Regions from separate parts of the Homo sapiens genome. Here all the other regions are linked to region 1. Evidence: fine-mapped expression QTL. A gene starts in region 1. Each other region holds a variant in brackets. All regions are shown on one strand. Distances are between the middles of the regions.

Region 1 (2,694 bases):
TTGTTTTGTTTTGTTTCCTTCCTGCTGCTCTTGGGGAGTATTAATAAAAGAGATGGGATAAGTGAAAAACACAAGACAGAGAACTATTTATTTTTTTTCAGTTTTTTTGCCACTGAAATGAAAAGATTATAATAATAATAGTCACCATTTATTAAACTCTGCTAAGCACATCATGGCCTGATTCAATCCTTTTAGCATCATACAAGGAAGTTATTATCTCCCCTTTACAGAGAAGGCTGTGGCTGGGGAGGTAGGGGTTGAGAACTTGCCTGAAGTCATAGCACATCCTAGCTGCTAGGAACTATTTTCTGAGCTAGGCTCTTCACACTGACCATCTTATAAAGTCTCTCACAGCATCCCTGGAATAAATGCATTATTGTCAACATTTTTATAACTTACAAAAGGCTAAGTGGTAAATTGAGGGTAGAATTCAAACTGAGGTCTTTCCAACTCCAAAACATGTGCTGTGATGACCGTGCCATAAACTTTCTCGTACCTTGTCAGAACAAATGTACTGAAACTACCATAGTTTCAGAACTGTAATAATCGATGCATAGTCCCCATTGGTAGATTTAGTGTTTTACAATAGAGTTTCTGAAAAGCAGTTTTAAAATACCCTTCAGCAAGCATTTACTGAGGCCTCGTCTAGGCCAGGACTTGGGCTGGACATTGCAGGCATGGCCACAGTAACGATGACTCAGAACTTGCCCCCAAGGAGTTCACAGTCTGGGAGCATTGGGGAGAGGAGCAGAAAGTAAACTAGAGAGCACAAAACACAAAGTCACACTCTTGTATAACATACACTCAGTAAAAAGGAGGCCCACTAGAGCAGGGTTTCTCAACCTGGCACTATTGCATTTGGGGCTGTCTGAGTCTTGCTGTGGGGGCTGCCTGTGCATTGTGGGGTATTAGCAGCATCTCTGAATTCTACTCAGTAGATACCAGTAGCCCCCCCACAACCAAAAATGTCTCTGGACATTGCCAAATGTCTCCTGAGGTTGGGGGAGTGAGAATCACTGCCCCACAGTTACATCCTGGCAGAGTTAAGCAATGAAACAAAATCACTGGCCATTAATAATACTATATGATTTTCAATTAAGAGCTTATTTACACACCAAGTACCTTAGAAACCTGATCTCATCCCATCCTCATCAAAACCTTATGGTGTGTACAAGCTGGAATGATGCCTATTTTATAGGTTAGGGCACTGAGGCACAAAGAGTTTAGTGGATGCCTAGCTGCACAGTAGTGACCGATAGAGCAGGCATTTGAAGCCTGCCCTGCCATCTTAGTCAGTGCACCGAGATATGAAGAGCATTTTTAAAGTGTGCTAGGCTCTTTCATTTTCATTACATGTCCACTGATATGGTTTGACTCTGTGTCCCCACCGAAATCTCATGTCGAAATGCAATCCCCACATGTTGGAGGAGGGACCTGGTGGGAAGTGATTGGATCATGGAGGTGGATTTCCCTCCTACTGTTCTCGTGATAGTGAGTGAGTTCTCATGAGATCCAATGGTTTAAAAGTGTGTGGCACTTCCTCCCTTCACTCTCTCTCTCTCTCCGGCCACCATGTGAAGATATGCGTGCTTCCCCTTCACCCTTCTGCCATGATTGTAAGTTTCCTGAGGCTTCCCCAGCCATGCCTCCTGTACAGCCTGTGGAACTGTGAGTCAAACCCCTTTTCTTCACAAATTACCCAGTCTCAGGTAGTTCTTTATATCAGTGTGAGAACAGACTAATACATCCACAGGCTGACCTAATCTAAAATTAGCAACACAAAGGAATGAATATTTATAATTGTATACAGTGTTATCCTTTGTGAATATTCTATCTTATCCATTCTGGACCTAATTAATCTAGTTTATTTTGGATGATTTGCTTATGGGAGTCTTGCTTTAACCAGGGAAAATATTTATTAATTCTGAAGAATGTAGTAAGTTTCATATCTTGATTTATATTTTGGCAGTTCAACCATGCACTGTGTGGGGGCCAAAAAAATCCCTAAAAATAATCATATGATATTGGCTAAGACCAAATGCAGCCAGTTATTTCTGTTGGTATGTCTTAATGAGGGAAAAAGGCAGAGCTGGATGCCTCTTCTTTCTTAAATTAAAAACAAAACAAAATAAACAAGCAAAAAAAACTTCAAGAGACTTCAAAGGTCAGTAGAAAGTTTTCGTTTAAATTGCCAATTGTACAATTTGAGGAATGCAAGTAAACTGCCCTCAAATAACTTTTCTAGGTATTTTTCAAAAAATTCTAAAGGGAATATTTGCTTTCTAGGCAAGGTTTTTAAATATTTCATTATCTAGGCTTAGATAGCTTGGATAGAATAGTTATTATTTTATATTCAATCTTTTACTTTAGCAGACTATTAGGATATGCTTGTTGTGACTCAGTTTTTTGTATCTACCATCTGTTGGTTTATTACCCAAATCTATAAGTAAACATCAACATAGGAAGCTTTACTGTCACTGAAGCTTTATTAAATAAATGAGTTTAATTGTGGATTGTTATCTGTGAAGTCAGGACCTGGGAGAGAAAAAAGCTACCAGCAACATTCAGACTGAGAGAGGCCAAAATACTAATTCATAATTAGCCTGGTACATATGAAGGATCAAAAAGAACAGGACTGTATGTCTGACCTCTGACAGGTATGTATCAGTGTACACAGCCACGCCAGATGATGTC
Region 2 (2,694 bases), 24 kb before region 1:
TTCTTAGTTTTAATAGAGCCCCCCCTTTTTTTTTCCAAATTAGCAGAGACTTTGTCTCCTCTCCCTCACCTCCTCAGTTACCACCAATTAACATTAAGAAACCCATGCTGGGCTGAATACAGTGGCTCACTCCTGTAATCCTAGCACTTTGGGAGGCCACAGCAGGTGGATCTGTTGAGCCCAGGAGTTTGAGACCAGCCTGGGCAATGGGCAAAATCCCACCTTTATTTAAAAAAAAAAATTAGCCAGGCATAGGGGCACAAACCTGTGGTCCCATCTACATGAGAGGCTGAGGCAGGAGGATGGCTTGAACCTGGGAGGTCGAGGCTGCAGTGAGCCATGATCATACTACTGCACTCTAGCCTGGGTGACAGAGTGGGACCCTGTTTCAAAAATAAAAATAAAAATAAAAACCCTTGCTGTCCTATGCAATGAGGGAACCCTTAGAGTTCTAAGGAGAGATCTGGGAATCAAAAGAGAGCAGCTGAAAAAAATGTCCTCCACATGAAACTACACCAAGCTTACACATTTACCCCCTCATAACAGAATTGCTGCTTGTGTTTTCATTCTTCTGTTGTGCTTCCATATACAAAGTGATTTAGGCCCAAATGAAATGAACATTTGTGTATAACTATACACATTCTAAAATTTTTTTAGTTTGGCAACTTAGGATAACATTTTTTTCAGATTTTATATAAGTTTATCATTTTACATTAACAGACACTTCAGTGCCTCTATTATTAGGACACTACTAGCTGCTGCAGTCAAGTGTAACAATGTAAGAACAAATGAAGTTCATTGGCTTCTTTTACAGGAAATAATTTAACTCCCATTTCGAGAGTTTTTCAAACTTATGTTGGCCTATAAACTTTGCAATTTGGACTACCTCGTAAGATTTGGGACATGTTTACCCTTTTGAAAACTGAAGAAACCAAAGCCTTGGGGAGAACTGAAAGGTCTTTGGACAATGAGAAGGAAAAGTGTCCAAACACAGAGGGAGTTGTGTTTTCCTAAAGCCAGACAGTGTCTACATTTTAAAAGATGTGTTTAAAGCCACGTGTAAATAAATTAATAGGTAGACAAGTTAATATTGTAATGGCATGCAACCAGAACATTTTAAAATGTGTAACAAAGAAAGCAGAGGACAGAACAAGACAAAAGCCAGAAGCAAGTTTAAATATTAGAAAATTTTCATTGTATAAATAAGACATTACAG[G/A]ATTAAACAGAAAATATCTGTTTTATATTGGCTCGTTCTGAGTCTCTAGACATTATTTGTATTATATTTCATTATTTATATTAAAGCCATACAGGTAGTAATTCTTAAAACCTTGAAAAGTTAAAAAGTATCTTATTAGCTCATGTGCTAGAGGAATTCCAGTAAGAAATTTCATCTTGAAAAATTCAGTTTTGCGGTCATAACTATGATCTCATTGTCCTCAGTGTACAAATGGTAAAGTATTTTTATCTCCAGGAATACCAAACTAAGTGACAGAGGTTGGAATTCACTTTTTTAGGCAGAGACAACATCAGGTATCAGATACTCATTCACAAATGTCTAATCTAGTTCGGTTTTCTTCTTTTTCTTTTTTCTCTTTTGTTGTTGTGGTTGTTGTTGTTGTTTTGTCTTTTTGTTGTTGTTATCTTCTAAGGATACATACTTCTGGCTTTATTGAATACATACCTCTGGCTTTATTTTGAAACAGCCAACAAGAAATGGAAGGCAGGTTAAACGTTTTTCTTAAATTCTTGTGACCAACTCAAATAGAACCAACTCAGAGAATTTTAGCCATTTCTTCACATAATTCAGGAGGGAGCAATGAACTCAAAAGATCTTTTGTCTGGGCAATGTGTGTAATGTTTTGAGTGTCTAATTTCACTTGAACACTTAGAAATGCAATTCTGCAAATTAGTTCTCCTGGCTTTTTCAGAGTATACTACATGACCAGGTTACATTTTCACATGAAACACATTTGCTATTAGAGTTTCATTTACTGATTTATCCTGGGATTTTTTAAAATTTTATTTTATTTTAAGTTCCAGGATACATGTGCAGGATGTGAAATACCATTTGACCCAGAAATCCCATTACTGGGTATACACCTAAAGGAGTATAAATCGTTCTTTTATAAAGATACATGCACATGTATGTTCACTGCAACACTATTCACAATAACAAAGACATGAAATCAACCCAACTGCTCATCAATGATAGACTAGATAAAAAAAAATGTGCTACATGTACACCATAGGATACTATGCAGCCATAAAAAGAATGAGATCGTGTCCTTTGCATGGACATGGATGGAGCTGAAAGCCATTATCTTCAGCAAACTAACACAAGAACAGAATGCCTTGGGATTTTTTAATGTTCTCTGGAGACGTGTTTGAGCTTTTCCAGTCTGGTGGTGAAAGAATATATTGAAAGGGAAATTGGCAATGAGAACTAAATTTTCTAGATACCAGAATTTAGTGACTGCCAGGAATGCAGGAAAGCTTTCTGTTGTAGGACACAAGGACTGTAGCATCCTGGAGAATATCCTGAGTCAAGACACAAGGGAGGGAAAAGAGTTCACTTACCATTCTGACATTCTGTGGAAGAGCAGAGGTGGTGTCTCTCTGAAGACCAAACCACAAAATTATCTGTGGGTGCTTGAGACAAGTCAAGATCATGTCTCTTAATTGGCCCTTTGATTC
Region 3 (2,694 bases), 64 kb after region 1:
CACTTACGAGTGAGCAATGATCACCTTAAAAATACAACTGTGAACACCATGCTGAGTTTATTGAACATTCCCTTACCCCATCATGCCCTGAATCTAATTCTATTTCTTCTTGAATATTCTTTACTTGCTTTGCTGGTAAATAGTAAGAATGGTGTCAATGAAAACTGAAGTGAAGATAAAGATATTCTGCATTGAACTGCCAAAGAAAACCCAAAGTTTACAAGAGGGCACACTTTGTATTAAATTAGAGCAGTTAAAATCCTTCCTAGGGACAAACTATTCTACTCCTCATGAACTCTTCTGAAACACTGAGAACTGTGCTCAGAGAAGCCTTTGGAGACATTAACTTACATTACATTAACTTACATTGGTCTGGTAATCTGCTCCAAGCCAGTAATTTTTCCACCTTAGTTAATCTTCATAGGTTTGTTGTGATAACATTATGACCATAAATTTGTGTCTTGAAAAATATTCACAATCCCTTTTAACCCAGCTTACTCAGATAGAGCCAGTACAGAAATCAATACATTTAACATAACATTTTCGTCCAGAAGTGTACTTCATTGTCCTTATTATTCTCTGGCTACATAAACTTAGGAACCTCATTTCAATTCACAGATGCAATTTTTCATATGTTAAATACATGCATTACAACTGGTTGTGTCAAAATCCACCTAACTTTAGCATTCTATAGATCTCTGAATCTAATGCTGAAATCTGCAGAGTCTCTACAGAGGCTGTTGTAATAAAAGTGAATAGACTTTTTTAAAGCCCTCTACTGTGACTGAGCAATTCAACTCAGAGAAATTTATCATAAGAAAATAATTTGTACATCCACTATGATTTATCTATGAAGATACTTATGTACATGGATATAATTAAATGTCATCACAACACTTATTATCATAAGAATAATTAGACAGTTCAACTTAAAGCAAATTAAAAACTAATTAGATTAATTATACTACATTTGCATACAGAATATTATACAACCATTTAAAAGGTATGTTACAAAACAACAGTTAATAGCATTGGGAAATGATCAGTGTTAGGTAAAACAAATAAAAGCAAGTAACCAGTCTACTCTACTACCTGTTTACACACATATATACGTATACAAAAGTATATATGTGTATATTTATAAAAATCTGTTACTATATATAAATATGTAGCACTTGTTATCTAACACTATTTGATTCAACAATCCAAATAATTAATCTCATTAGTGGCAGAGATTACCTATGATTTTTACTTTCATATTAGCTTTGTTATATTTTCCAAATTTTCTACAATAAACTGGCATTATTTTTGGAATTCAGAAGAAAAAAATCATGTGCTTTGTGTGTGTGTATACATGCACATGCATGCATACAGTAGAAAGGACCATGATTTTATCTTTTATTTCTGACAGAATTCTCAAGTATGTCCTCTGCCTATCTC[A/G]GGTTGTCCTTCCCTTCATGACAGGTACTTTCTGAAACCATATTATTGATTAGCAGGTCTAGGAGAATAGCAGAGAAACATTCTTATTAGCCTTTTCTGCTCTAAAACAGCCTCATTTTAGTTTTTTTTTTTTTTTTTTTTAATCTATGCCTGGATTGCCCACACTATCTATCTCTGGTGCTCTGTCTTACACTTGTCCCTCCACCGGGAATTCTTTCTTTCATCTCTTGAAATCCTGATCATTCTTCAAGACTTAGTTCAAATGTCTCCTCCTCTGTGTCTGCATTTCTACTGATGCACGCCTGTCTCTCTCTCTCTCACACACACACACAAACACACACACACTTTCTCTTCAAGGGCCATACAATTGATTTCTCTATTTATATCGGGAGCTTGTAAGAGAAAAGAGTGGTGAAGAGTATGAGGAACTGGAGAATGAATATCCCAACTGCAGATGGCAGTGGTTTCTCAACTCCAGCCAATTTCTCCCTAGTGGGAATACAGATTTAATGTTGCCAGCCTTTCAAGAAAAACAATAAATCCATGTGTTTTTATGTAAGAGCTCTCATTTTAAAATATTAGCTCATAAAAAATGAAACAAAAACAAACACCACCACTGGGCATACCAAACAAAAATATCCATTAGCTGAATCTACCCTGCAGGCCAAATTTGCAACCTCTACGTAAGTCTACATCTTCTACATCCCTGTATTCCTTTATCACCTAGCACAGAGTTTGTTCATAATGGCTTGCACCTAGTAGGCCCTCACCCGTGTAAGCTATCCATTTGGTAAGTCAATGACAATGGGATCTACATCAAAGATTCGTCATCCATCATTAATGTTTTAAAACTTGTTTTGATTCTGACAGAGCTTTTTTGAGCCTTCCAAAGGTAACGTGGGAGAAAATTCCTTCTCTGTGACCTAAAACAGGAACTTGTCTTTTTTCCTGTACTTTCTACTAACCCAGGAACACTGTCAGCAGTCAATAAATAATAAATTACAGTCATTTAATTACAGCTTTTATGCATCCAGGTCATGTAATATTGACTTCATATTTGCACTCAGATTTTCTGCCACTTAAGAAGAAGGCAGCCAAGGGATAAAAGGTAAGTACAAGCCAAGCAATGGTCTAAGGAAGAAATGGCAATTTTTATGTCTGCCTCAGAGGAGCTGAATCAGGTAAGGAAAATAGAAATGAAACCAAGCCAGCTGAATACCTCATAGCAAAGAATGGGAAAGCAACACAAGAGCA
Region 4 (2,694 bases), 58 kb before region 1:
CAGCTCACTGCAACCTGCACCTCTCAGGTTCAAACGATCCTCCCACTTCAGCCTCCTGGGTAGCTGGGACTACAGGCACACGCCACCACACCAAGCAACATACCTTGATTTTAAAGAAAAGAAAGCTGAACCTTAGAGAAGTCATGCCACAACATATTTCATGGTTTATAATAATGTTTTGGGATAGTGATTTGATTGTATGTCTCTCCCATTTGATTGAATATTCCAAAAGGACAATCTTCTTACTTCACTCTGCTGTCTTTAGCGGAGGGATGATGAGAATGCTGCAGAGTCGAATATTTATCAAACCTTTAGCTAGAGGGATGAATGGTTAGATGCCTCAAGGTTTACACAGCTAATGAAGAGGAATCAGAATTCAAATCTGGGTTGTTTTCATATCAAACTATATATTAACTAACATTACTGTATTTCTGCATCTGCAAGATTACATATAAGATGTGAGAAAAGGGGGCGCATGATCCAAAGGACATAATCATAAGAACATCTTTATTTATAGCAGCATTCTTTAGGGATGTGCTTTCCATATGGGAGAGTTACTTATCTTGAAGCCAGTTCTCCGTATCCCTTTGGGAGGCCAAGATCCCTATGATAGCCCATATTTGGCTAAGACCAATAGCAGGACACTGAACAGAAAGATCCAAATGAAAGCTGTGTCATACAGATCTGTTTAAACACAGACCAGCATGTATTTTATAAGCTCTGGTATCCACAGATCATGCTGACAATCTCAGATTTTTGTGGTTTGCTTTTTCTTTTTTTCAAACAGTGCTCTGTAAATTTAGGAAAAAGTTAGAACGTGTGGCATGAAACAATGTCTAAATATAAGCAATCAATGTGATTAACTGAATGCCGCAAATATGCACTGTATATGTATTTCTCAGGAAAGGCAGGCAATAAATACATATATTTTGTATATATCATCATTCTCTGAAAAGTTAGACAGTGAGATATATCAGTGTGTGATGTATTACACTGAAAGAATCTTTGCTTGTAGTCAGTAAATATTATTACTTAATCAGACCAGATTGTGCTTCTAAAATATCTCTCTTGCCCCAGATCATATTATTTTGGTGATAAATACTAGAAGAATAGTTTTTTTGTATTTTAATTCACAGACTTGTAAGTGTGGGTCTTCTTGATTGAATATAGCCTAAGGAGGAGGATGTTAATTTGAGGTCCATTTGAGGGGAAGATATCTCCTTAGATGGGATTTAGCTTAATTGTGTACAATTTTTTAAAAAAATCTAGGGTCATTACTTTTT[C/G]TCTCCCCCAATTCTTAAAGGGAATTGTGTCTCCTGCAAAATATTGCAACCTACTGGCCTGTGATATAGCCACTATTTGTGGAGCTATACAATTCCATGTAGTGGCCAGTTCTATGTACAAAAGAACACTGGAATGATATATTCCTTTATGGTGTTTGCAGTAGTAGTAGGTATGTTCTGTAAGAGCTCAGAAGAGGTCTGAACAGGGATCTGCAGGGGAGTGGAGTGGTCAGGGCAATATTTGTAACTGAGGTGAATTGCAAAAGAACCAGAGAATATATCTGGTGTAGAAAAACACAACAGAGAAAGAAATTGAGTGAAGGCACTATGAGAGTGAAGGACAGGAGGCTACACTGAATGTGGAGTCACTTTACTCTTTGACTTTTACTTGAATTAATGTAGTTTTAAGCCATGCATCTTTAATAAGAAACTGACTTCTTTATCGGATTAGGGATTTAAAAGGATCTCTTTGTACCCAGTTGGGAAATGAGAGGTTGTCACATGCACATCCTACTCTATTAGTTCCACTATTTCCATGCCCTGTTCCCTCTGCACAAGAGGAATGAGCACATGTTTCTAAGGTTTATTCTTCAACAGCAAAGCAAAGTTCTTATTCACCCTTCAATAGGCTCTTCATGAAAGTGGACAGGCTGTTGAGTCACCAGAGACCAAGGAAGATATTCATTATTTTGGATCTTGAGCTTGACCTGGAATTCCTGTAACCCAGTCACTAAGAAAGTATAATGTGTGGTAAACAGCAAAGATTCTACAATCAGATGGGCTCCCTTTAAAACTCAGTTCAGCCACTTTTAGTTATTAACCTTGAGCAAAGCTCCCGTCTCTCTTTGCTTTAGTTTCTTCATCTGTAAAACAGGGAACATATTTGTGCCATAAAATTAATGAGAATTAAATGAGCTAATAGGTATAAAGTCATCAGAACATTACTTGAAACAGGGCAAGCACTCAGATGATAGCAACTATTAAAATCATAAAACACTTATATTCTAGGAAATCCAGCATGTGCTAGGTACGTGGAGCTCATCATGTAAAGATTATTCAGCAGGAGTAATTCCAACATACAGTAGTTGAATGTGCGCAATGTGTTAGACTTTGGGATAATGGAGACACAGTGCCTGCTTATGAGGCACTACAGTCTATTTTACAGGGTTATTGGCATTAAATTTGCTTGCCTAATATGTTTAGCTTACTGAATTGAATTCCTGTTGACTTACAGGAGGATGTTGACAAGGCAGTGAAGGCCGCAAGACAGGCTTTTCAGATTGGATCCCCGTGGCGTACTATGGATGCTTCCGAGAGGGGGCGACTATTATACAAGTTGGCTGATTTAATCGAAAGAGATCGTCTGCTGCTGGCGGTGAGTATTATCCAAGCTGGATGGGTAGCTAGAGCT

The links. PIP is the estimated chance that this variant, and not a neighbour inherited with it, causes the effect.
Region 2: its variant is the best candidate, but not a certain one, in a credible set for the expression of LINC01474 in visceral fat (GTEx, PIP 0.55).
Region 3: its variant is the best candidate, but not a certain one, in a credible set for the expression of LINC01474 in whole blood (TOPMed, PIP 0.64).
Region 4: its variant is the best candidate, but not a certain one, in a credible set for the expression of LINC01474 in breast (GTEx, PIP 0.51).

What each region holds. Positions count from the first base shown.
Region 1 is chr9:72,872,990-72,875,683 of GRCh38, reverse strand. LINC01474 (long intergenic non-protein coding RNA 1474) reads left to right here and starts at 1,575. Exons shown (of 4, transcript NR_121181.1): 1 at 1,575-1,616; 2 at 2,529-2,657.
Region 2 is chr9:72,897,329-72,900,022 of GRCh38, reverse strand. No RefSeq gene overlaps it. Among named protein-coding and RNA genes, the nearest start is that of LINC01474, 25 kb to the right of the region's middle. The variant G/A (reference allele first, on the strand shown) is at 1,217.
Region 3 is chr9:72,809,024-72,811,717 of GRCh38, reverse strand. All of the region lies in intron 18 of TMC1 (transmembrane channel like 1), which reads right to left. Among named protein-coding and RNA genes, the nearest start is that of LINC01474, 64 kb to the left of the region's middle. The variant A/G (reference allele first, on the strand shown) is at 1,441.
Region 4 is chr9:72,930,843-72,933,536 of GRCh38, reverse strand. It overlaps ALDH1A1 (aldehyde dehydrogenase 1 family member A1), which reads left to right. Exons shown (of 13, transcript NM_000689.5): 3 at 2,518-2,658. Among named protein-coding and RNA genes, the nearest start is that of ALDH1A1, 21 kb to the left of the region's middle. The variant C/G (reference allele first, on the strand shown) is at 1,284.